3 separate regions of the Homo sapiens genome follow, and all the other regions are linked to region 2. Evidence: fine-mapped expression QTL. A gene starts in region 2. Each other region holds a variant in brackets. All regions are shown on one strand. Distances are from middle to middle. Region 1 overlaps HS1BP3 (HCLS1 binding protein 3). Region 2 holds the start of HS1BP3 (HCLS1 binding protein 3). Region 3 has its middle 18 kb from the start of HS1BP3-IT1.

Evidence for each region.
Region 1: its variant is fine-mapped to the expression of HS1BP3 in whole blood (TOPMed, PIP above 0.99).
Region 3: its variant is fine-mapped to the expression of HS1BP3 in whole blood (TOPMed, PIP 0.98).

Annotation. Positions count from the first base shown.
Region 1 is chr2:20,620,595-20,628,771 of GRCh38, forward strand. HS1BP3 (HCLS1 binding protein 3) reads right to left here. Exons shown (of 7, transcript NM_022460.4): 5 at 4,138-4,298; 6 at 3,302-3,437. Among named protein-coding and RNA genes, the nearest start is that of HS1BP3, 26 kb to the right of the region's middle. The variant C/T (reference allele first, on the strand shown) is at 4,337.
Region 2 is chr2:20,647,920-20,656,096 of GRCh38, forward strand. HS1BP3 (HCLS1 binding protein 3) reads right to left here and starts at 3,179. Exons shown (of 7, transcript NM_022460.4): 1 at 3,113-3,179. The coding sequence starts at 3,144. It overlaps LOC105373466 (a long non-coding RNA gene), which reads left to right and starts at 3,363. Exons shown (of 2, transcript XR_001739320.2): 1 at 3,363-3,433; 2 at 4,056-4,281. RefSeq lists enhancers at 2,526-2,605, 2,626-2,775, 2,860-3,597 and a silencer at 2,856-3,445.
Region 3 is chr2:20,606,642-20,614,818 of GRCh38, forward strand. It overlaps a transcript of HS1BP3 not described here and the pseudogene RPS25P3. Among named protein-coding and RNA genes, the nearest start is that of HS1BP3-IT1, 18 kb to the left of the region's middle. RefSeq lists an enhancer at 2,524-3,023. The variant C/T (reference allele first, on the strand shown) is at 4,547.

The sequences.
Region 1 (8,177 bases), 27 kb before region 2:
GAGAACTGGCTTCCGTTCCTCACCCTGCAACTCCTCCATCAGGCAGCCTCAGGCCACTCCTCCTCCCTGGTCCTCAGTCTCTTCTATAAAGTGGGATTGTACTTGCTCTACCATCCTCACAGGGATTCTTACAAGGATCAAATAAGACAACACAAGGAAAGTAGTTTCCAAATGTACAGGAAGGCTGTATGTACTGATGTCTACTGACAGCCACAGGGGCTGAGCAAGTGGGCATAAGACACAGAAAAGCAGTGCCTCCACCTACAATGAGGGACACCCCCCAGCCCAGTCAGACAGGGGCCACATAATTGCAAAGGCCTGGAAAGAAGGTGTTGAAGTCCAGAGAAGGGAGTGAGCCCTTGGGCCAGAGCAGGCTGGGAAGGCCTCCTGGGAAGGTGGGTCTTTTCAGAAGGGTGAGCCTGGCATGAATAGGGGAGAGAATTCTGAAGAAGGGAGCAGACAGCAGAGGTCTGGAGGTGGGAATGAGAATGAACAGGAAGAACCAGGCAGGCTCATGAGCAGCGGCTTCTTGCCCTGGGGCAGGGCCGGGCAGGGGTGGGGATAGAGAGGCGATACCTCTGATCAGGACAACTCCTGGCACTACCAGAGAGCCTGTGTGAGTATGGAGGTGTCCAGCACAGCACCCCCAGGGGTGGATGCCTGCCTGGAGCCAGCTGTGGAAGGAGCTCCGGACACCCTGCCTGCTTCCTGGCTCAACCTCCTGTGATGGGGCACAAACCCCAGAGAGAGAATTCAGAGTCTGTTTGGATGGCAGAGAAATGAATAAAAGGTGTCCTTCTTGAACAAACCCAGAGGGACTGGCCCAAGCCGGGCCTTCATAGACAGACCAGCTGTCTTGGGGTAGAGGTGATTTCAGGAGGTGTCACTCATGGCCAGTCTGCTCCTGGCCACCTCAGGTCAGATGTTCCGGAGCTCCCTCCAAGTGGCAGCCCTTCCTTGACTCCCCCAGGGCAGGTGCCAGCTCCACTGGCATGATGCAGCCTCCATTGAAGGCTGAGGGTACCTGGGAAAAGCTCAAAGGGACTGAATTATCCTCAAATAGGGGCCCTTTGGAAAATAAAGCAGCCGCTAGAGGCTTATGTCAGATTTCAGGATTAGCCTGCTTGGCAAAGCAGTGACTCTTTGGAACTAATCAGCAGCTGGATTTGCTCCCAGGTGGGTGGTGTACACGGGTGGTCAGCCACGGTGGGAGGCAGCATAGCTGCTCTTGGGACACAGGAGGCTGCAAGGCACCCCTTTTCCAAGCACCCTATTTCTGAGTCATGACTAGGACTAGCTCTCACTAGCGCAAGGTCCAGCTCTTTTCTCCTCCAGGCCCAGCTGGTGTGAGGTCAACCAGTGGGGGGTAAGGGAGCTCTAAGACCCTGGCCCCATTCCTTCTCCCTGGGTTCCTGCGGAAGACAAGACTCACCTAAACATCTAGACTAGAGGCCCTGCCCTGGTGTGGCTGCACAGCCAGAAGGAACAAAGCCTTCTTAGCCTCGACCCGCTCAGTGTACACCCCACGCGGCCTCAGGGTGGCTGAGGCTAGTGACAGAATGAACGAAGGGGTGAAAGCATGAATGAATGAATGGCTATCAGAACATTCTTTATTATGAGGAAGTCCAACTACTCCCTGGATAGTCACAGGGCAGACACAAAGAATGAATGTGGTTCCTGCTCTCAAGAAGCTAATCCCAGTGTTACGGCTCTTTTTGAATTTGTCTGAATTTAAAAAAAAGAAAAGCAGTTAATCCTTTCATTAGCAGATGTCTGCTAAAGTGAAGGTGGGGGTGCGGGACCCACACTTTTTGAGCAGGGACTCCCCAAGCGCTCTGCGGGATGCTAAGGGGCACCACAGAGTGGGGGGCCCAGGGATGAATGAGAACGTGAAGTGCCATGTGGTGCTGGCCCGCGCACTACGAGCCCTGCTTTTTGTGGCATTTCCCCAATTCATCAGCCACAGAGCCCCTTTGAAGATAGCCTTTGACCACCCCACTGTACCACGTTCTGCAGAACACAGGTTGGGAAGTAACGGATTTAGAATAAACTAGGCCAGAAAGGTCCCACGAGAGCCACCCCACTGGGACACATGGACTCCTAGACATGCTCGGCCTGGCCCTGCTGCTCCGCAGGCAGACTCTAGTATTTCATTTCCCTGTGCCTCGGTTTCCCTCTAATAAAATAACAATCCTGGTTTCTTCCAGCCCGCTGGGATGTCAGGAGCGAGGACACAGGATGAGAGTGAACAGATGCCAGGGGCCTTGGGGACATGTAAATACCAGAAGCCGTCACGGTGACTCAGGCTTGGCGGGCACTTGCAGGGCTGTCTAATAGCCCGAGGCTGCTAATGAGGGGTACAGATGACAGCCTCCAGGGCCTGCATGCCTTGGTGTCACATAAGCCGTTCCTGGAAAGAGGCGGCCTGGCTTCCTCTGAATCCCAGGCACAGTCCTGTGTCCTGGAGCATGGAGTGGGAGCTGGAGACACGCACAACACTGAGTCTGCTGAGAATGTGGCCAGTGGAGGTAAAGGCCTGGGGAGAACTGGGGGGCTGGGTGGGGAGGCAGATCACCCAGCCAAGTGCTCAGACAGTCCCTGATGAAGTGGAGAGGCCAGGCCAGGGGCAGAGCAGGGGTCTTAGCCAGGTGGCGTCCCACACTTGATTTCTTATAATATGGAGAAAATAGCATCCACCTTAGGGGGCTGTCGTGAAGATTACATAAGAGAGCGTGTAAGGAGTCTGGCTTACTGCGTACACAGCAAGGACTCAGGAAATAGGAGCTGTCACCGGCACAGGTTCTGCCAATTGACCTCCATGTGACAGCTGAGGCCTCATTCTCCCTTCCTTCTGTGAAAGCTGCCGACCGGGCCCTCCGGCAGAGAGGCCATCACCAAGACATCTGCACTTTGCCCCCTCGCTGGGTGGGCTGCATGCTGCCATGAGTCCGTTTAATTTGTTCCCAAACTTGCTTATGCCAGTTATACCTGCTCTTGCAATTATATAATTTAATTATTCTTTACATAAACTGTTAAAATATGATTGTGAAAAGAAAGACTGGTTGTGCACACAAAGTTCTCTCTTTCTGGAACTAGCTGAGCAGCCCTGGGCTGCGGATCCTCCCCCTCAGCCCCCTTCACCGCCTCTCACCCAATGTGCACCCACAGGCTTCTACTTTTCACAGGCCTGGGGTCCTCCCCTCAGAGGAGGCTGGGGCTGAGACTGGGCAATGAGCCGGGCCCTTGGCTCTGTCCAGAACACTCTCAGAGCTGGCCAAGCGCCGCTGGGGACAGGTGGTACCTGAACAGTTCCTTGGAGGCGTCCCTGTGGCTGAGGCTGGGTGTGGGCCCTCCACTCTCACAGGCGGCTGGCAGCAGGAGGGAGTCACCCAGGGGGATGGCCCCGCCGAGGTCAGGATCATCAAATAGCTTCAGGGCTGTGGGAAGGCAGCAGCAGGGGGGTCAGAGGAAGCCTCTAGGCTGGGATGCCATGGCTGCTCTCTCTCTGCCCCACCCCAGGAAGTCTTCTGGGCAGTCCTACAGGAATTGATGCCTCTGCTCAACCTGTCATAACTGGTGCTGCTTTGTAACTGTCAGGCAATGACCTGTCTCCCCAGGGGCCCCCGGGGCCCTCGGGATAGGGACTAGGGACAGGGACTAGGTCTCACTCCTCAGCATGTTCTTGGGCCTGGCCCTCAGTGAGGGCTCACCAAGTATGGGCTGAATTAGTGGGTGGCATCAATTCCCCTCACCGGAGGACGACCTGGGCATGTGAGGAAAGGGACCAAGGGATGAGTGGAGATGTCCCAAGGCCGCTCGGTTTTCCCTCTGCCAACTCTGCACAGAGCCCTCCAGCAGAGTCCATGCAGGCGACACAGAGTCCCATTAAATCCAAACCTACAGTCACACATGTGCCCTAGGCAGGCCCTATCGCTTACCACACAAACAGTGCCTGGAAGCCCAGGGCCCACATCTGCCCACAGATGTCATGGAAGCACAAAGCTGAGTCTATATCACATCTAAACAGGACAGGGGAGATATATGGGTCCTATTCACGCCGGGTGAGTCCAGACCCTGCCTGGTGATGGGGCTGGGCACCGAGAGGACACCAGGAGCAGACCATGGGGCTCTACTTACGGTCCACGGATGACACGTCCTCCGAGGGGTCCTGTGGAGACAGCTTCCTGCCCGGGCCAAAGAGCCCCTCATCAGGGTCCACCTCCTCGTCAAAGATGGTGAGCCGGGGCGAGGGCTTGGCTTTCACGGCCACTTTGGGATGTTTCTTGGGCTTCTTGGAGCTGGAGAATCACAGACAAAGCACAAGGTGAGGATTTCC[C/T]ACAAGTGTCCAGGTGGTCCGGTCAGACCGACACAGGCGCTGGGCCCTGCAGTGGAGGGGCTGGATGCCATGGGCCAGAAAAGACCAGGCCAGAGGGACCAGGGAAGTCCTGGAGGGGGCCACCCAGAGCAGTCCAGGCAGGTGGAGCTGAAGTCTTTCTGAAATCTCTAACAGATGGTCACACGGCCAAGGGAAGGACAGGTCCTCCATCCCAGGGGAGAAAAGCAGGCCAGCGAAGGTGGTTGAGAAGCAGGTTTCCCCAATGACAGAGTGGTAAGGCCCCCGCTACTGTGGGCAGCTGTGCCCTGTGTTCAAGAAATGACCACTGTCAGGAGGAGCAGGCGGCTGCCAGGACCGGGCACCAGCTGCCAGACAACCCCAGCTCTTAGACGCCTTCAGGCCTTGAGTCTGCCATGCGGTCACAGGCCAGAGATCACACTCCCATTCGGAAGGTAGAGACAGCTGCCTGGTCTCAGGGTCTCAGCACTTGGGGGCCAGGCTCAGAGAACCACACTCCACAGCCACTCAGAAATGGGGATGGACCTGGTCTTGAGCCACAAACCTCAGGGCTAGGACTCAGGAGGGCAGAAAGCAGCTTTGGTAAGTGCCTTATTGTTTCCTTTGCATGGTAAAACCACCATTGTTCTAGTTAACACTTGGGTTCTGTGGAGCAGCCCCCCTCTTTCAGGAAGCCTCTCTGGGACTTGCCCACCTCCCCGGCTCCGACTCTGCCACCCCAGGTCCCATTACAGTGCACTTGCCGACTGGCTGAGGAGGTCCTGCTCTGGGCCAGACCCTGCTGTAAGAAACCAGGACGGGGCAGGATGGAAGCTTCTGGGGTGTAGGAGTACTTTAGTTTTGATCCAGGCGGTAGTTACGGGCTGGATAAGTAAACACGCATGGAGCTGAATGCTCAGGATCTGTGTACGTCACTGTAAGTGATACCGCCAGTAAGTAAACACACTTGATTTTACTTTAATAATTACTTTAACAGGCATTCAATCCCTGCTGATGATGTCTATTAGCCATTTTAAGGTTCCTGAAAATAATGAGAATATGCTCTTTACTGGAAACTGAAATTCCGTGTGCCTGTCCGCCTGGCGGGCAGTTCCACTGGACTGAGGTCACTATGTGAGGTCACCATCTGAGCTCATGTTGGTAACACGCTGCGGCAAAACTGCACCGAGAGGCTGGCCTACACAATGATACAGATTAACCAATGGCAGATAAAAATAGCAGAATGGCCCTGGGTGCTGGAGGGGCAGGTCCCCGCAAGGTGACCATTCCCACAGTCTGGAGTCTGAGGTCTGGCAGAATCCCAGGCACCCAGCCGAGGCGAGGAGAAACTATGAAAGCCAGGAAGGCTCCCTGCTGGAAGGTTCCCTGCTGGAAGGCTGCAGGACAGAGCATCCTCTGAGCTCAGAGCCCAGTCCCAGGGGAAGGATCTCTGCAGGGCTCGTTTGTTGGATGAGGAAACAGTGGTCCAGAGAAGCTGAGTGTCTGCCCAAGGCCACACAGCAGGGAAGGGACAGGCAGGCTGGGTCTAGATTGAGGATGGTCATACTCATGGTCCTATCCTCTTGTCCCCTCCAAATGTCCCATGAGGAAGGTGATATAGGATGGCGCAGGGATAACAGGATTGATCCTGCTGTTCTCTGGGGAGAAAGTGGCATGTTTCAAGGGTAGTGATGGGGAGCAGAGACGCAGTGGCAGGGACTGCTCCAAGAAGGCCCATCTGCCTGGTCCTGTGCTTTCTCCACCCAGCTCAGGCCATGAGGGACCTCCTCTGCTGTGCACCACCCTCAGGCCCTGCTTGTGGTGCTGGAGGTGAGGTGGAGGGAGCCTCGATTCTCCACCCTAAGGGCAAGTGCTTTCCAGAAATCTTCAGCTTCTGCTCCTCTGAGACCTGGAGGAGCCAGGGCTCGCCTGCTCTTACTCAGACATTCTCCCCTTTATTCTTACCAATCAGGCAGAGCCAGCTCGGCTCTCATGACTCCTAGGAAGTGGGTACCAAACAAGGGCCATGGCCTCCTGGGGCAGACAGCAAAGCTGACCCCAGCCAAGACCCACTGAGTCGGAAACCCCAAGCAGGCCCAGGAGGCTGTGTTCAGTCTCCTGTGGAATTCCACGGTCAGCCAGGCTCGCAGCCACTGTTCTGCCCGATGCTTCTCTCCCCTTCATTCCCCATCTCTGCCGCCCTTTGCGTGGCCCTTGCTCCTGGCCCCAGCAGGCACTGCGGTGGGGAAGGGTGGAGAGCCACCCCGGCCCCTACCCAGGTGGCAGCTCTCAGGGAGGGCAGGTCTGAGGCTGCTCTGCAGCCTCCCCCAGCAGCAGCTCCATGCCACACCCCACACTGTCTGCTCAGAAACAAGCAGGCCCTCCCTGGCTCCTGGGGATTGAACTTGCATGTAACCAGCCACGGGCCCCTCGGGGCAGGGGAGCAAGAGGCTTTGCATTGACCAGAAATCAGAGGGCGCAGAGAGGGAAGCGAGCCATCTGAGGAACAAGGGAAGCGAGAGAGAACAGGCGCGAGGAGGTCTCTCTGGAGAAGCCGTGGTGCCCCTTCCTACGCCTGCACCTGGTCTGGACAGCACACAAGAGGCCTAACTTTCCTTCCATGTGAGTTTTCTCCTCCAACTGGATCATGTCCTTGTTTTTCTCCCTAGAGACATGTTTGCCCTTTTGTTGTCCTGAACTGAAATAAAGTGGATCTACAGCACACGCGGGCGGCTCCAGCAGGCATGGTCTGTACCCTACCCCCACCCACCCATGCTGCCTGGGCTGCCTTCTCTACCTCCCCAACTCTCTAGACCCATCTTCAGGGGAATCAAGGAAGAAGCAGGAAATATGGAGTTTTGGTGCCTAAAAGCCCCAGGGTCCTATCCTGAGCGGCCCAAAACTTTCAGCCTCTGGGGGCTTAGTAATGTGCCTGGTCCATAACAGATGCCTTGATAAACTCTGGATGAGAGGATGCGCGATGGATGGAGGGGAGGAGGGATGGACAGGTGGAGGACAGGTAGGCAGGGAGCAGGGTGCCAGCACATCTCCATCTCAGGATTCTGTTAATCCCCAAGGCGGGAGGGGCAGGGAGGGAAGAGGGATAGGCTCCCAACCCCAGTCTCAGACAGCGCCCTATGTGCGAAAGCCCCTCCTCCGAAGATCTCCTGGCCGACTCCACTGGGCTTGCCACCAGGCCCTCAGCCACTCTATGAGCAACTCATTCCTTCCCTCGTGGGCACCTTTGATGGCGAGCACTCACTGAGAACCTCCCACCTGCAAGAACCTGTGCTGGGGACGAGGGAACAAAGATGAGGACGAGCCGCCGCTGTCCCCAGAAGCTCATGGCAGAGCAGGGTCACATAGAAACTGATCATTATGGCCGAGTGAGGTGGCTTATGCCTGTAATCCCAGCACTTTCGGAGGCTGAGGTGGGTGAATTTAAGAATAAAATATGAAAAGTGCTTTAGTTTAAAGCAAAAAGTTTACGGGAGGCCAGGAGTTTGAGACCAGCCTGGCAAAGATGATGAAATCCCATCTCTACTAAAAATACAAAAATTAGCGTAGCATGGTGGTGCATGCCTGTAATCCCAGCTACTCGGGAGGCTGAGGCATAAGAATCGCTTGAACCCCAGGGATGTAGGTTGCAGTGAGCTCACATCACACCACTGCACTCCAGCCTGGGTGACAAAGTGAGACTTTGTCTCAAAAAAAAAAAAAGGAAACTGTTCATTAGCACACAGGGTGTTCCGCTCTGTCACGGCAGAGCACAGAGGACAGAGCCAACCAAGCCTGAGGGCTCAGGGAGGACTTCTTGGAGGAGGTGATGTGGAGACAGGAAGTG
Region 2 (8,177 bases):
ACTGCTGTGTACTGCTCCAGAGACCATCGGAGAACATCCTAGGCTTCGCTGTCACATCTGCCCATCAGCCTGCAGCTGCTCCCTGATAGCTGCCCTCTCCTGGGACTGTAGACAAACTGGCTGGCTGCTCCTAAGGCCAACCTTCTACCAGGGCAGCGGCTCCGAGGCCCTCCCACCTACTGAAGGACATAGCTGCTGCAGCTCACCCCTCTTTTTCGCACCATCGATTTTCCTTCCTTACTGGCCCACGCTTATTAGCATGCAACCATGCTCTGACCACTCATGTAACAAAAGCTGTGCTTTGACCCGACATTCCCCTTGCTCCGTTTCCCTCCTGCCCTTTCCAGCAGAACTCCTCAACAGAGGGCCCCATATTCATGGGTTCCTCTCCTCCTGTTTGATCTTGAACCCTTTCCAGCCAGACTTTGGTCCTCATCATGCAACAAACTGCCCACGCCCAGGTCATCTGCGACCTCCATGTGGTTAAATCCAAAGGTGAATCCTCATTTCTCCTCTGGTCTGACTTGTCAGCAGCAGTGGGCACAGTCAGCCACTCCCCTCCTTCAAGCTCTGCCTTCACTGGTGGCTGGAGCACCCCCTCACTCTTGGTTCTTCTCTGCCCACCCTGGCCACTCTTGCTCAAACAGGAGGAGAGGAACTGCTTTGGATGGTTCCCCTTGATAGCATCCAGAGCACCCTCCTTCTTCCTCTCACTGTACCCCTCCCCAGGTGATCTCATCCAGGCTCCAGGCTTTAAATACCATTTCCGAGCCAATGGCTCCCCAACTCCCATCTTTAGCTCACTCTCCCCTCACAGCCAGCCTCCTTCCAGCTGCAGCTGCCTGACATCCCCACTGGGCTGTCAACGAGCTTCTCAAAACTCACCTGTCTACACAAATGCTGCTTCTACCTCTCCCCAAGCCTGCTAAAGGGCAGCCTCATTCTTCCAGCAGCTTAGGCTGAGAGACTTGCCGTTAGTCTTAACTTCTCTTCTTGTTCTCACACCCCATATCCAAGCATCAGCAAACCTGAAAGCTCAATCTTCAAAATATATCGAGAACCCAAACATTTCTCACCCTCACGGCCGCCATCACCCCGGGCCAAGCCACCACCGGCTCTACATGGAAACCTACAAGCCTGTCCTGAATGCTCAGCTCGGCCACTGCCCATGCTCAGCATAGCAGCCAAAGGATCTCTATAAACCAGAAGTTGGGCCCTATTGCACTTGAAATTAAATCTGATGGCCCCTCCACAGCCTTCTCGGCCTTTCCTGATCATCCTTCACTCCCAAGCTTGCCTCTTCACCGCATCACCTAACACTCTCCCTGGGCTCACTCCACTCCAGCATACCAGCCTCGGGACCCTGGCTCCTGCTGTCCTGTCCTCCCAGTACACACTTTTCCAAGATTTCTTTTTCATGGCTCTCTCCCTCATGGAGCTTGTCCGGGATCTGTCCAGGCGCCACTCCATCAGAAAGATGCCTCTTTACCACACCATAGAAAACAGCATGCATGCCTCCTACCACTCTGTTGCCCCCACTGTTTTGTTTTCCTTCATAGCATGTATCATCCCTGACATGTCGTAGATTTGCCCACTGGGCCTGTGCCCTCATTAAAGCTCTACGAGAGGGACTTGTTTGTCTCCTAGAACTAGGGCCAGTACCCGGTACAGAGAAGGCTCTCGATAAACACCTTCTGGCTGAATTCAAGCTTGAGTGCATGTGGCAATGACATGTGGGAGGAGATCGGGCTGGAAAGAGGAGCTGGGGTGCGACTGGGAAGGGCCGGCCTTGCTGCTGGGCTAAGGCGTTTGGACTCACCCTGCAGGCAAGATCCTTGGGTGTGCTGGTGCCCTCAGCAAGAAATGAGCCTGACTCATGTGGCCTTACCACCGCCAGCGCCCCCACATCTGTTAACAAGCCACGTCCAGGCTGTGCAGCGGGGCAGGGAGGGAAGCCACCCACCCCATCCCAAGCACCCAGCACCAAAGTCACACCCCATCCATCTGCACATGGCTGAGGGGCATATACTACTGACGTTGCTCATGCCTGCCAATCTGAAACCTCCAATTCACAGAAAAGGAAACTGAGGCTTGGTGAGAGGAGGTGACGTAAGTGGCAGTAGGGAAACCTCTTCTGCCCATGAAGATACAACTGTAACCACACTTGATCATGAAAGACCAAGCAGCCTCCGACATCAGGGTTTACAAAAGGAATCATACCTTTCTAGACCTGAAGTCACGGGGAATTCCTGATTACAACTGGAAGATCAACAGTTGGCTGGGTAACACGTTCATTTATGTCATAAATTGGCATCTTAGCCTAAGACTTTGTGTAGGGAGAGCAAGGGTGAAGTGTATGAAAATATTTGAAGTAAATCACTTTACAGCGTTTTAAAGGCGGAAAGAAGTAAAAGCACGTGCCTCCCAGCCTTGCCAGGATCCACCTTGGGCTGGGTCCTCCAGGTCTCGATCAGGGCCGACCCATTCTGCATCCTCCGCCTGGACCCCTCCAAGGCTTTTGCTGTAACTTGCGCTCTCCTGAGCTGCCTCGCAAGCAGCAACGACCTCTCCCTGGTCTCTCATCAAACTCATCCTCCCAGAAACCGGGTTCCTGCCCTGTACTGTGTTCCCATGGCAACCTGAGCTTACTACCCGCTGCTGGCATCACCCCCTCTCCGCTGCAGCCCCCTGCAGGGCGAGCTTGTCTGATTCGCCTCTGTCCCCAGTGCCCAGCACCGGGCCTGGGACTCAGGGAGCTCTGAAAGGATGGGGAACTAGATTTTCGGGCTCAAAAGAGAAGAACCCAAGGCGGTAGGAAAGGAGAGCAGAGTCCCCACTGCGCCCGCCTGCACTGAACCAGTCAGTCCCAGGGCTCCCGCTGTCCTTGGCTAGTTCTCTACCCTCCAGAGGGCCTCGGTTTCCTCATCTGTAAATCGGGGTCGCCACCTCTCCTGCAGGGCGGTGCAGGGGCCCAGCCCGGATAAGCCACCGAGGGCGCTGGGGAGACCTGCACCAGGTCCCTGGCCTAGGAGGCGGCGGCCTCCCCCCGCCTCTCCGCCCGGGCGCCCCGGACTGCGAGCTGTGCGGTGTGGGGCGCGGGGGTCTGGCTCACCTGGAGGTGACGAGCACCGCCGGGGACTGCATGACGGCGGCGGGGACTCCGGGCGGGGCGCGCAGTCACGGGACCCGGCAGTGCCCGCGTCACCGCGTCCCCGCCCTGCCTCCCGCTGCCCTGGCCTGCCCCCTGGTGGCAGCGGCCGCGCAGTTCGCGCCTGTGGCCAGAGGCGGGGCGGAAGCGCGGCTGGGCGGGTCCCGCACGGTCGCCGTCGGCCTGCGCTGCTCGGAGCTTCCGGAGCACCCAGGCTGAGCCGCGCCCGCCGCAACCACCTAGAAGAAGCCCAGCCTGGCCCTGGCACACGGTGAACCTTAATCGGTGTGTCTGTTTTGCGCTAAAGTTTAGCCGTTAGAGAGACGGGACTCTGCTGTTTCCGCCGCCAGTCCCCATTACAAAACCACTCCCCCTCTGCCCCAAGACCATTTCATTCAACCGATCGGTCAACAAATATTTACCAAGCTGGGGCTCTGTCCAGGCTTCGTGGGGTCTTCTTCAAGCTGCACAGTGAACGCCACGCAGCAGCCCAGTCCCCTTGAGCTTGCTGCCTCCAGCTAGCTCGCCTATCTGGTTCCTACTGCCTGCCCGCTCCATAAATGGCAGGCACTCTCCCGACAGGGGATCTTTAGAGAGGCAGCCTCTGCTGCTTGGCAGAGCCCTGGTGGAGGCCTCCCGGGGCCGGGCCTGCCTGGGATGGCTGCACTTGGGTCCCCAGCTGGAGCAGGGCAACGGGGTCCAGGAGCCAGTTCCCCTCAGAAGGGGAACGTACAGACATGCAGACCCTAACAGACCCACTCATTTTAGATTCACCTCTCCATGGGGTGAGGAACAGAGAGATCGTATCACCTGCCAACGTAGCCCAGGGAAAGAAAAGCTGAGTCTGCAAACAGGGCCAGCAGAAGGTGCAAACTGCTGCCCCTGTTCTGTTACTCCCTCCACCCAGAGCCCCAGTGACAAAAAGAAAGAGAAGCTGGGCTTAACTATACCAGAATTCACGGCAGGGCGATGTCAGCCATGTTTCCTGAGCCTATCAACCACCGCCACCAGCATCACCAACAATATCTACCAGTTTTTACAGATTTTAGTGAAGAAATCCTACAGTAAAAGATTTTGAAAAATGACTTTCCCCAATGTATCTCTTGAATAAATACGGACATTGATATGCCTTATTATTTGTCTCAGATTTGTTTATAGGCAAGATGAGCAATCATGAATGAAGTATGACAATGAATGAAAGTTCTGAGGGAGACCCTTGAAGGCTGCAGTGAAGAGCTGGGATGATGGCGGGAACCCCTGTCTGCTCTGCTGCTCATCGGCCTGTCCGTCTGCAGGGCCGTGTTCATGGCTGCAAATGGTCCTCCGTGTTTTGTTTAAATTGGCATGCCCTACTTTAGAGAAAGGGAGTTCAGGGTCTGGACAGAAAGCAGTATAGGCTTCAGCATTCCAGGAGTCTGAGTGTAGTGCCAGGCAGTCGAGCAGTCACCATTGCACTCACATTTATCCAACAGACAGAAACACAGTGAATAAGACACTTTAGATGCCTTCAGTGGACTTCTTTGCCCTCCTACATGGGGAGTGGGTGGGGGTCTGGAAAGGCTTTCTAAAGGAGCTGAAGTCCAAGGGAAAACCTGAAGAAATATGGATAGAATAGATTAGAAGGAATGTCACGTGCAAAGCCCTAGCGACAGGATAGGAACACCAGGGAACAGGGGGAAGAGGCCAGCAGGAGCCAGGGTGTGGACAGCCTAGTGCACCAAGGCCAGGGCTTTGCCTGATCCTGAGGCCAACACAGCGCCATCAGAGGGTCAGGGACATAGGAGTGGCTGGGCCAGCTAGGGCGTGGGCAGGGTTTTGGAGCATGTTGAAGGTATGAAGATGAGCTGGACTGCAGAACAATCCAGACAAGAGACAATGGTCCCATGAACTAGGGTGATGGCCACCCAGGTGGAGAAGAGGGGACGGGTAAGAGGGCCTTAGGAGAAGGAGTTGGTCAAGACTTGGGAATCCAATGGGTGTGGGCGGGAAGAGATAAGATACCACTATGGTTTGGCTCTTGTGAGTGGCTGGACATTGGTATCATTCTCTGTGGCAGGGCACCTGGAGAAGGAGCATATTTTTGGTAGGATGATGGGTTCTGTTTCAGACAGGCAGTGTTTGAAGGGCTGGACCTATTGATGCGATTGGGTTTATGGCCCTGGGCCTCAGGAAGCCGACCTGGGCTGGAGACTGACATAGGAGTCATGGGTAAAAAGGAGGCTGTTGAGCCTGAGAGTTGGGGTGAGCCCACCAAGGATGGTCTACAATCCAGAGATATGCAGCGGTGTTGGGGGGCTGCAGAGAAGGGGACTCTCCATCATTGTGGGAGCTGGTAGCATGTCTGTCACCAATGCCTTGTAAGCAAATGAGAGGGCCTCACCTGTGCCCCTGGGGTTGTGAAGTGTGCACCTCAGGAAGACTCGGCCCACCTGTCAAGAATGCAACTGGTTTCCCATGAAAGAACGACCCCATTCCCAACAGCAATCCCATTTTCTGCCTCTGTGGGTCCCACGTGCCCCTCTATGGCTCCAGCGCGTAATTGTATACAATGCATGGAATGTGGGATCTAAATCTGATATTTTCTGCTTCCTGTTTAATTCAAGGAGCCCCTTCCATGGCTGAAGCTGCGGTAACACAAACCACATTGCAAAGGATTTTCTATTTCTCTCTTTCTCACTGCCCTGGGAGGAACACTCCAGGCCTCAGTTTCCACCCAGGAAGTCACTGGGCCTCAGGACACTGTGGTCACTGAGAGACACCCGCAGCCTGCAGGGGGTGCTCTGAACTCTGGCTGAGCCATGCACCAACGTTTCCCATGGTGGCTCGGGTCTTCTGGGACCTTATAATTTGTCTCTGTTCCCTAATGTGATACTTTAGAGCTCCAGGGTCTGGGCACATCCACATGGAGCAGGGCCACCACCTTGCTTGTCACTCAGCAAACACTCATAGGTACAGCTCCAGGCCTGTTATCTCCCCAGGCCTGGGGGCTACAGAGCCTTATCCTGTGGGGCTCACAGCCCACTGCAGGGGCTCACAGGCCACTCTAGGACAGCTGGAGATTTCAACAAGGATGCACGCCTAGGGTGCTATGGTGCACAGAGGAGGGCACATAACTAACTCAGCCTAGGGTTGGGCATACAAAGAATTCTGCCAGGAGGAGGTGATGGCAGACCTGGGTTGTAAAAAGTAGGTATTATTTTTTTGAGACTTGATTTTCTCACTGGTGAAATGCACGTAACAGAAACCTTTAAATCATAACATTGCTTGAATTACATGAGGTAAAATGAGACTGAAACAAGATGAAATGTATGGCAGGCATTGGTGATGAGCTAACCGGAAGCCATTCACAACCCCCTTCTTCCTGGTTTTTATTACCATAGAGGCTGGAGAAGTAAAACACATGTCCCATTTCAGTTACAAGGGGCCATGTGACATAACTGACCACATATACTTAAGTCCCTGTGGAGGATTTATCTTGCTAGGAGAAAACTCTTCGCTCCTTCCTTGTCTTCTACCTGGGAAGGGGATACAGTGTTGGAGACACAGCAGCCATCATGGGAGCAGGAGGCACAGACATGAGTTTGGAGTCTACCATGTTAGGGATGAACAAGCCTGGGGAGCTGATGGCATATGAGCTTGCATACACGCCCTGGACTTTTTCTACAAAGTTCTCCTTGCATAAATGCCTAAATCACTCTAAGTGGGGGTTTTCTGCAGTGGATTTCCTGTTGGTGTAGTTGTAAAGTACTTACATAATGCCTGACATAAAAACTGCTCCATAGGGGATGCAGGGATGACTGAGGAGGAGGAAGAAAAGAGGTAAAATGTGTACTAGGAAGGCAGCTTGTCTTTTTTTTTTTTTTTTTTTTTTTTTGAGACAGGGTCTCATTCTGTCGCAGTGGCATGATCACAGCTCACTGTAGCCTCAACCTCCTTGGGCTTAGGTGATCCTCCCACCTCAGCCTCCCAAGTAGCTGGGATCACAGGTGTGTGCCACCATGCCCAGCTAATTTTTGTGTTTTTTGTAGAGACAGGGTTTCCCTATGTTGCCCAGACTGGCCTTGAACTCCTGGGCTCGAGCAATCTGCCCTGCTGAGCCTCCCAAAGTGCTAGGATTACAGGTGTGAGCCACCATGCTCAGCCTAGTACGTCTTGATAGAACCAGAGCGTATCTGAGGAGCTGGTGAGAAGAATATGTGGAAGGATTGCTGGGAGAGGAGGCAGCAGAGGGCAAGAGGAGCCTGTGTTCCCGCAGCATAGAGGGCCTTGTGCGCTATGCAAAGGAGCTCACATCTTATCCTGAAGAAGGAGGGAGTGGGCTCACAGAACAAAGGGAAAAGAGTGTTTCAGGAAGAGACTGGGGTGTGATCAGCAATGCCAAACACTGCTGAACATCCAGGAAGATAAGGAGGTGTTCAAGAAAAACAAACAAAAAAACCCCACAGAACTGAACAGTAGTTAAAGTGGTGAAAGCAGATTTTATTTGGGACTACTGCAATAGGGGTAAGAGACCCCAGTATAGAACTAGGCTAAATTCCGAATGCAGCATGAGAAAGTAGGAATTTATAGCCAAGGAACAGGGTGGGAGTGGTGGCTGGAACATTACTAAGACGAGTATGGGGGGACTCTGGCTATGCCGACCTAACAGGATTCTTGCTGAAGATGGGCCAGGATGGTCAGACATCACCTGGGGATGGTGGAGGAGGGGGAACCCAGTTGGATATCGAGGGTGATCAGATAGGCAGGGTGGGAGGATGTTGGTAACCTGACTTAGCCACGTTCTTCCTAAAACTGGATTTTACAAGGAAGTGCATGCATAGGTCTAAGAGAAGGTTCAGGAGCTCAAAGCTCAGTTTGGTCAAGAAGAGAATCTTTGAAGAGAGAAAAGTGTTCTCTGGCCTCGAGGAGGGCAGTGTCCCAGTGGGTGGAGGAGGGGACAGGAGGTGGGAAGGGGAGAAGGGAGTAGGGCCCCCTCTTCCAGAGGGGGACAAGCAGACAATTTTTGGAACCATTCTGTAGAAATAATTCA
Region 3 (8,177 bases), 41 kb before region 2:
CCTTGGGTGGCATTGCAAAGCTCAGAGAGCAGCGGTGAACGCTACAGCCTCGCTAAGATGTCAGACAAAAAGACACTGAACATATTTTCATGTGTTTGTTGTCCTTTGTATATTTTCTTTGAATAAATGCCTATGTAAATCCTATGCCAATTTTTAAATTGGGTTATTTGTTGTTGAGTTGTAGGAGTTCTTTATATATTCTAGACACTAGATCCTTAAACGATATATGGTTTGCAAACATTTTGTCCTATTCTTTGTGTTGTCTTTCACTCTCTTGATGTTGTCCTTGGAAGCACAAAAGTTTTTAGTTTCGATAAATTCATCAATTTATCTTTTTATTTTTTTTTGGCCGCTTGTGCTCTTGGTGTCATATCTAATAATCCATGGCCAAATCTCAGGTCATGAAGACTTACCCTATATTTTTATTAAGAGTTTTATAGTAATAGCTCTTATATTTAGGTCTTTGATTTATGTTGAGTTAATTTTTGCATATGGTATGAGGTAGGGTGCAACTTCATTCTTTTTTTTTTTTGAGACAGAGTCTTGCTCCATCGCCCAGGCTGGAGTGCAGTGGTGTGGTCTCAGCTCACTGCAACCTCCACCTCCCAGGTTCAAGCAATTCTCCTGCCTTGGCCTCCTGAGTAGCTGGAGTTACAGACACCCATGACTATGCCCAGCTAATTTTTGTATTTTTAGAAGAGACAGGGTTTCACCATGTTGGCCAGGCTGGTCTCAAACTCCTGACCTCAAGTGATCTGCCCACCTCAGCCTCCCAATGTGCTGGGATTACAGGCATGAGCCACCACACCTGGCCTCTGACTTCATTCTTTTACACGTGGATGTCCCCTCCAATACAATTTCTTGGGAGGCTATTCTGCATGGAATGGTCTTGGCACCCTTGTCATAAATCAAGTGCCACACGTGTATGAGTTTATATCTGGACTCTTAATTCCATCCAGTTGATCTATATGTCTATCCTGTGCCAGTGCCACACTGTTTTGATTACTGTAACTTTGTAGTGACTTTTGAAATTGGGAAGTATAAGTCCTCCAACTTTGCTCTTCTTTTTGAAGATTGCTTTAGCTATTCAGGGTCCCTTGTAATTCCATACAAATTTTAGGATTAGCTTTTCCATTTCTGTAAAAACATCACATTGGGATTTTGATAAGCATGGCATTAAATCTGTAGATCTATTTGGAGATTACTGTCATTTTAACAATATCAAGTCTTCTAATCAATGAACATGGAATGTCTTTTTATTTTCTTAAATTTTATTTAATTTCTTTCAGCGGTGTTACATAGTTTTCAATGTTCAAGTCTTCCCCTCCCTTTGTTAAATTCATTTCTAGTTATTTTATTGTGTTTGGTGCTATTGTAAATTGAATCGTTTTCTTGATTTTCCTTTTGTAGTGTGTATAGAAATATAACTAATTTTGTGTTAATATTGTATCCTTCAACTTTGTCAAATTCATATATTAGCTATAATAGTTTTTTTGTAGATTCTTTAGTATCAGCTACATGTAAGATCATGTCATCTGCAAATAAATGTGGTTCTCCTGCTTATTTTACTATCTAGATGTCTTTTTTTTTTCTTGCCTAGTTTCTCTGGCTAGAACTTCCAGTACAATATTGCATAGAAGTAGCAGAAACAGGCCGGGTGTGGTGGCTCATGCCTGTAATCCCAGCACTTTGGGAGGCCGATGCGGGAGGATCACCTGAGGTTGGGAGTTCGAGACCAGCCTGACCAACATGGTGAAACCCCGTCTCTACTAAAAATACAAAATTAGCTGGCTGTGGTGGTGCATGCCTGTAATCCCAGCTACTTGGGAGACTGAAGCAGGAGAATCTCTTGAACCCGGGAGGTGGAGTTTGCAGTGAGCCATGATTGCACCATTGCACCCCAGCCCGGGCAACAAGAGCGAAACTCCGTCTCAAAAAAAAAAAAAAAAAAAAAAGAAGTAGCAGAAACGGGCATCCTGTCTTGTTCCTGATCTTCGGGCAAAGATTTCTGTCTTTCACCAAGTGTTTTCTTGACTCTCATTGGCTCATCCTCTACTTTCTCCAGGGTGTCCGGCTGTCACCCTTGCTCACTCTGCTGCCCCAAGGAAACCAGTTCTCCAGCCTTTGCCACACTCACATCCTCTAGTCCCCACCTCTGCCCTCCACTTTCTGATTCAGTGCTCTATCTTTCAAACCAAGAGTTTTTTGCGGAGTTCCTATGCCTCACTCCTGTGGCTCCAACTAGTCATGCATCTCTCCTCCCTGGCCCTCTCCCACAGCTCTGAGCATGAAGAGGCCTGAGGCACACTTCATAAATGCTGAGGTCCTGAAAAGCCTAAGAGGTCAGGCTTGCTGAGAAGAGCTATGTCTGAGCCCGCCTGGCTACAGGGAAAACAAACCCCAAAACCTTGTTGGCCTGATTGGCAGGAGCCCAGAGAGAACTGATGCCCATCCAAGAAACACAGGTGTTCAAGGGCCCCTGCTCTGTGGCTCTCCACCCATGGGTAGCTGCAGGATGAGCACCGTCCTTGGGGGCAGAGGCCGCCAGGCGCTGCATCAGGATCCTGGCCTGCTGCTCTAATAGTGCCTGTGAGAAGTCAGGTTCTCAGGGCTCTAGTCCTCGCTCTCTGCCACATGAGAACCCACAGCAGCCTTCCTGCATCCCAGCAAAGGACCATGCACTCCCCAAGCCAAAGGGGTCCTGGTGGAGACCTTCAGTAAGATTGCCACTTCAAAGCCGTTCCAGGGGCCCGGGGGGACCTCTGAGCTCTCCTCCAGGAAAAGGCCTGTTCTCGTGAGGCCTGTTGTAGCTCAGCTCTTGGAGCCTTCTCTAGGGAGCACATTGAACAGTTTTCCGAATACTGAGGCTCCTCTTGGCTTCATTCCAGGAGTGGGGGAGAGGAGGGAAGGCTGGGCTGAGCCGCTCTGTGGATTTGCTCAGCTGTGTGTCATCCCATACTGTGCCAGTAGGCCCTGAGCCACCATGCAGTTAATTCTCCCCATTCACCTGTCCAGGACAACACAGGGTAACTAGAGGAAGAAAAAGAAAAGCTGGAAATCGTACAGAGGAGGAGAGAGATGCTGTCAAGGAACAAAGGCCAGTTGGTGCCAGGACTTCCAGGCCAATTGAGGATTCTGACCCCTCATTGCTCCAGAGGACTCTGGAGGTGTCCTTTCCCTCAGAGGGTGCCCCCAGCCCCTTGACTCAGTTTTTCCCATTTACTGGACTGGAAACCCCTCCCACCATCAGTGAAACGTTTGCTAAGCCTCACTTGGAGCCCAGGTACCCTGGGGACTGTGGGGGCTATCACCAAAGGTGGGGCATGGTCTGGGGATACCAGGTATCTTGGGGCAGCAGGCATCTTCTACTTCATGAGCTTCCTCCCTGTGGTTCCTTTTTTATTTTTAAGTAGATTTTTTTTAAAGAGCAGTTTTAGGTTCACAGCACAATTGAACAGAGAGTACAAAGTCCCCACATGCCTCCTGCCCCCACACATGCACAGCCTCGCCCACCAGCAACAGCCTGCACCAGAGTGGGACATTTACCAGTGAACCTACATGGACACATGGACGCCTCCTTATCACCCAGAGCCATAGCATACATTAGGGTTCACTCTTGGTGCGGTGCATTCTGTAGGTTTAAACTAATGAATAATGCCACGGATCCACCATGAGAGTATCATACAGATAAGTTTTTGCCCTAAAAATCCTCTGTGCTCCTCCTATTCATCCCTCTCTTCCCCTTGAACCCCAGAAACCACTGATCTTTTTATGGTCTCTGTGGTTTTGCTTTTTCCAGGTCAGATAGCTGGAATCATACAACATATATATCCTTTTCAGATTGCCTTCTTTCACTTAGTAATAGGCATTTAAGTTTCCTCCATATCTTTTCATGGCTCGATAGCACATTTCTTTTTAGCACTGAATTAAATGCTCAGTGGAATCATCACCTGGATATACTGCAGTCTGTTTACTCATTCACCTACCAAAGGACATCTTGGTTGCTCCCAAGTCTTGGTAATTGTGAATCAAGCTGCTATAAGCATCCATGTACAGATTTTTGTGAGGACATAAGTTTTAACTCCTTTGGGTAAATACCAAGGAGCACAAATGCTGGAGAGTATGGTAAGAGTATGTTCAGTTTTGTACTGTGGTTTCCACAGGTATATTGAGATATAATTCGCGTATAATCAAATGTTCCCATTTTAAGTGCACAGTTTGATGAGTTTTGGTGAACGTTTATAGTCATGCTCACAGCGTAGCACACTTCCATCACTCCCAAAAGCTGCCTCATGGCCCCTTGCAGCCAACCACTCCTGTCCTGCCCATCCCCAGCCCCTGGCAACCATGGGTCTGCTTTCTGTCACTACAATTTTGCCTTTTCTAGGGTTTCATATATGTGGGATCATACAAGATATAGTTTTGGGGTCTGGCTTCTTTCACTTAGCATGTTTGTGATATCCATTGTGGTATGTCTGTTAGAGGGTTTTTCCTTTTTGACGCTGCACAGCATTCCGCTGCATCCATGTGCCACTGTTTGCTTGTT[C/T]ATTGACCGTTTGTTTGATGGATATTTGGGTTGTTTCCTTTGGGGGAGGAACCCTTATGAATAATGTTGCTGTGAACATTCGTGTCTAAGTCTTTGTGTGTGTGGCTTCTTTTCGAAGGAAGGGGGAACGCTGGCTCACTCCCTCCCAAAGTGATTGAGGGTTGATAAGGAAGCTGGGAAATCCCAAGGGGTAAAGAGAAAGGGATACAGGCCAGCCTGACCATGGGCCGCTGGGACTGCCAGAAACCTCTCTCCACTTGACCACATCGTGCGCAAAGTTCAGGGACCAGGAGAGGGAAACCGATGTGTTTACTTCCTGTCTCCATGGTGCTGGGAGAGCTGTTGTTGCTCTGAGTGTGGGGTGAGCTGGAATGTACTCCCCGCTGCCGCAGTCCTGTTGACATTATTCCTTGTCAGAATGGCTCATTTCCAGTTCGTTCCATCTACCCTCCCTTTGGTAGACCTCCATGACCCACCTGGATCCAGTCCCCAGTCACATACCAGGGCCCCCTGGACACAGGGTCCCTCAATCCCAGGGCCCCTTTCTGGGTCTCCAGTGGTTTTGTATGTGCCCATTCCCATGCCCCCCACCCCACGGTGAGGCAGCAGAAGCAGGCCATCACCCTGCTCAGCAGCGTGGGGTTCAGAGAAGCTGAGAGATGGCAGAGGGTGGCACAGCCTCCTCCCGCACCTACAACCACCCTCCATGGAGAGCAAGCCATCAGCACCCCTTTCCACGAAGATGTCTGGTGTTCACTCTCAGATGAAGAGAGGGAGTACTCAAACTCTAGGATTCCTCATAGCCCAATAGACAGCAGCTTAACAGAATTTCAACAGAATGTTAATTACACACATATAATGAATACTATGCATCAGGTATTGTTCAAATAACTTTACAAATATTAACTCATTTAGCCTTATACTACCCTAATGAGGCAGGTAAAATTATTACCCCCATTTTATAGAGGAGGAAATTGGGGCACAGAGAGGTTAAGTAACTGGCCCAGGGTCACACAGCCAGGAAGCCCAAAAGCCAGGAGTTGGCTCACATTTTTAATCTCTGCACTCTGCTGCCTATGGATTTGTTGGTTTCCTTCTTTTTCCAATCATTAAATTATCCTAACAGTTTTATTGAGATATAATTTATATACCGTAAACATCACCCATTTTAAGTGTACAATTGAACAATTTTAGTAAACTTATCAAATTGTGCAACCATCACAACAAGCCAACTTTAGAGCATTTCTATCACCCTGGGAAAGATTCTTTGTGCCCTTTTGCAGTCACTGTTAGTTCCAACCTCTGCTTGAAGCAACCATTAATCTTTCTGTCTCTGTAGATTTGTCCTGGAAATTTCCTATACATAGAATCATACAATACGTGGTCTTTTGAGTCTAGCTTCTGTCACTTAACATGATGTATTTGAGGTAGATCCATATTGCAGCATGTATCACTCCATTCGTTTTTGTGATCTAATAATATTCCATTATATGGATTTACTGCATTTAGTTTATCCATTCACCAGCCGAGAGGCTTTTCCATTGTTTCCACTTTTTGGCTGTGATAAATAAAGCTGCTATGAACATCTGTGTACAAGCCTTTGACTGGACATATATTTCTCTTTCTCTTTAGGTATATGCCTAGGAGTGGAATTGCTGATTTGTGTGGTACATTTATGTTTACTTGTTGTAAAAACTGCTAAATCTATTTCCCAAAGTGCTGCACCATTTTCCATTCCACAGCCATGGATTTTATAGACTGTGAGGTCCCGATGCAAATCCTAGGGCCACCCATACAAGCAGACAGAGCCCAATTTAGGGTCCTGGAACCAACCTAGGTGTAAAATGAAGCCATCTGGGGATGGGGGGGACTGAGTCAAGCTCAGCCTCTCTGCAGCTTCTGATGTCTGAGAAACAGGTGGGCAAGAAATCAGCTGTTCTACTTTCTAATCCAGAAAAACATTGCCCTCTGGGACCTAGAGCACTTGTTAGGGGAAAATCAGCAAAGTGGCGATAACACCAAAAGGAAAAACAGAAACACACTGTGGAGACGTCAAGGGCGATCTCAGCAAAGGAAGAAAACCAGCTTGAGAAGGCAGCAGTAAAGGCAGTTGGCCTGCAGCTCCCATGCTCCGGAAGCCTTTAGTTCCCACTGCCAGCATCCTCAGAGCCCTTTCCGACTACCTCGGAGGCCAGCGAGAGGATAATGGGGTGATGGCAAGGGGGAGCCCCAGGACTCAGCTGCCTATGGCTCTGAACAGACAGTGCTGGTCCAGCCAGGGAAGGCCTTCTCCAGAGGGGCACTGCTGGAGGAAGGAAGGAAGGAACGCCGCTGCCCGCCTGCCAGCCAGGATAGCTCTGAGTGTCACCAGCTCTCCAGTTTGTGCCACATGTTATCTAAGGAGTCATTTCACTATTTAATAAAGAGATCCAGCTTTTGATAGAGAGAATTTGACATGTCTGGCAGCAGCTGCAAAGGACAGAACTTTATAATGATGGCCCGTGGTGGGTGTCTACACACACAACTGCCTGCCCAGCTTCCTCCTGACACGTCCCCTCACATGGGAGTGAAACCGACATGGCACTGCTGAAACACACAGAGTACACAGGGATGGCACAGGGGGCATGCCTTGCAGAATGGAATGGGCCTCTGCTTGCTGCTGAATGCCACGTGCTCAGGACAGGTGGTAACTGTACTGGGTCGAATTGCGTCCCTTCAAATTCATGTCCACAAGGACGCTGTGAAGGTGCTCCTATTTGGAAATAGGGCCTTTGCAGGTATAATTAAAGGGAAATGAGGTCATATCAGATTACAGTGGGCCGTAATCCAATGACTGGTATTCTTTCCTATAAGAGGGAAATTTGGGCACAGACACAGAGAAGACACCGTGTGAAGACACAGACACAGAGGAGAGAAACTCATATGAAGACAAAGGCAGAGGCTGGGGTGATACAGCTATAAACCAAGGGACCCCAAGTGTTGCCAGGAAACCCCCAGAAGCCAGGACAAAACAAAGTAGGATCCTTCCCTAGAGATTTCAGAGGGACCATGGCCCTACTAACACCTTGATTTTAGACTCGTGACCCCCAGAACTGTGAGATAATACATTCCTGTGGTTTAAAGCCACCCAGTTTATGGTGCTTTGCCAAGGCAGCTCCAGGAAATGGAACAAAAGCTGAGCCCAGGCTGCAGGTAACAAACTGTCCATGCTGGCAGGTGGCAGAGGGGGAAGGACAGGCAGAGAGGGCCGCATGGAGGAGGCACCTCCTTTAGTTGTGCCTGAGGTTCAGGCAGAAGGCCCAGAGAACAGAAGTGAAACTAGAGGCTCAGCATGGCTCCTGGTAGAATTGGCTTTAATGGCTCAAGTTTTTTCATCTTTGCTTCCTCCAACTTGCCTGGAACAGGTACTGCACACGGTAGGTGCCCATTACGTGCTTAGTGTTTATGGATGAGCTCTGCATGTGGGAAAACAAACGACATGATTGGCCAGTTGGCCTGGAGAGAGCTAGCCCAGCTTTATTTAAAAAGCCATTCAGAGGCGGCTGCTATGTGCTGAGTTGGCAGAGAAGCATCAGGCCTCTGAAAGTCAGCAATAAAGAGTCGGCTTACCGAGGCCACATGCTGAGCCCAT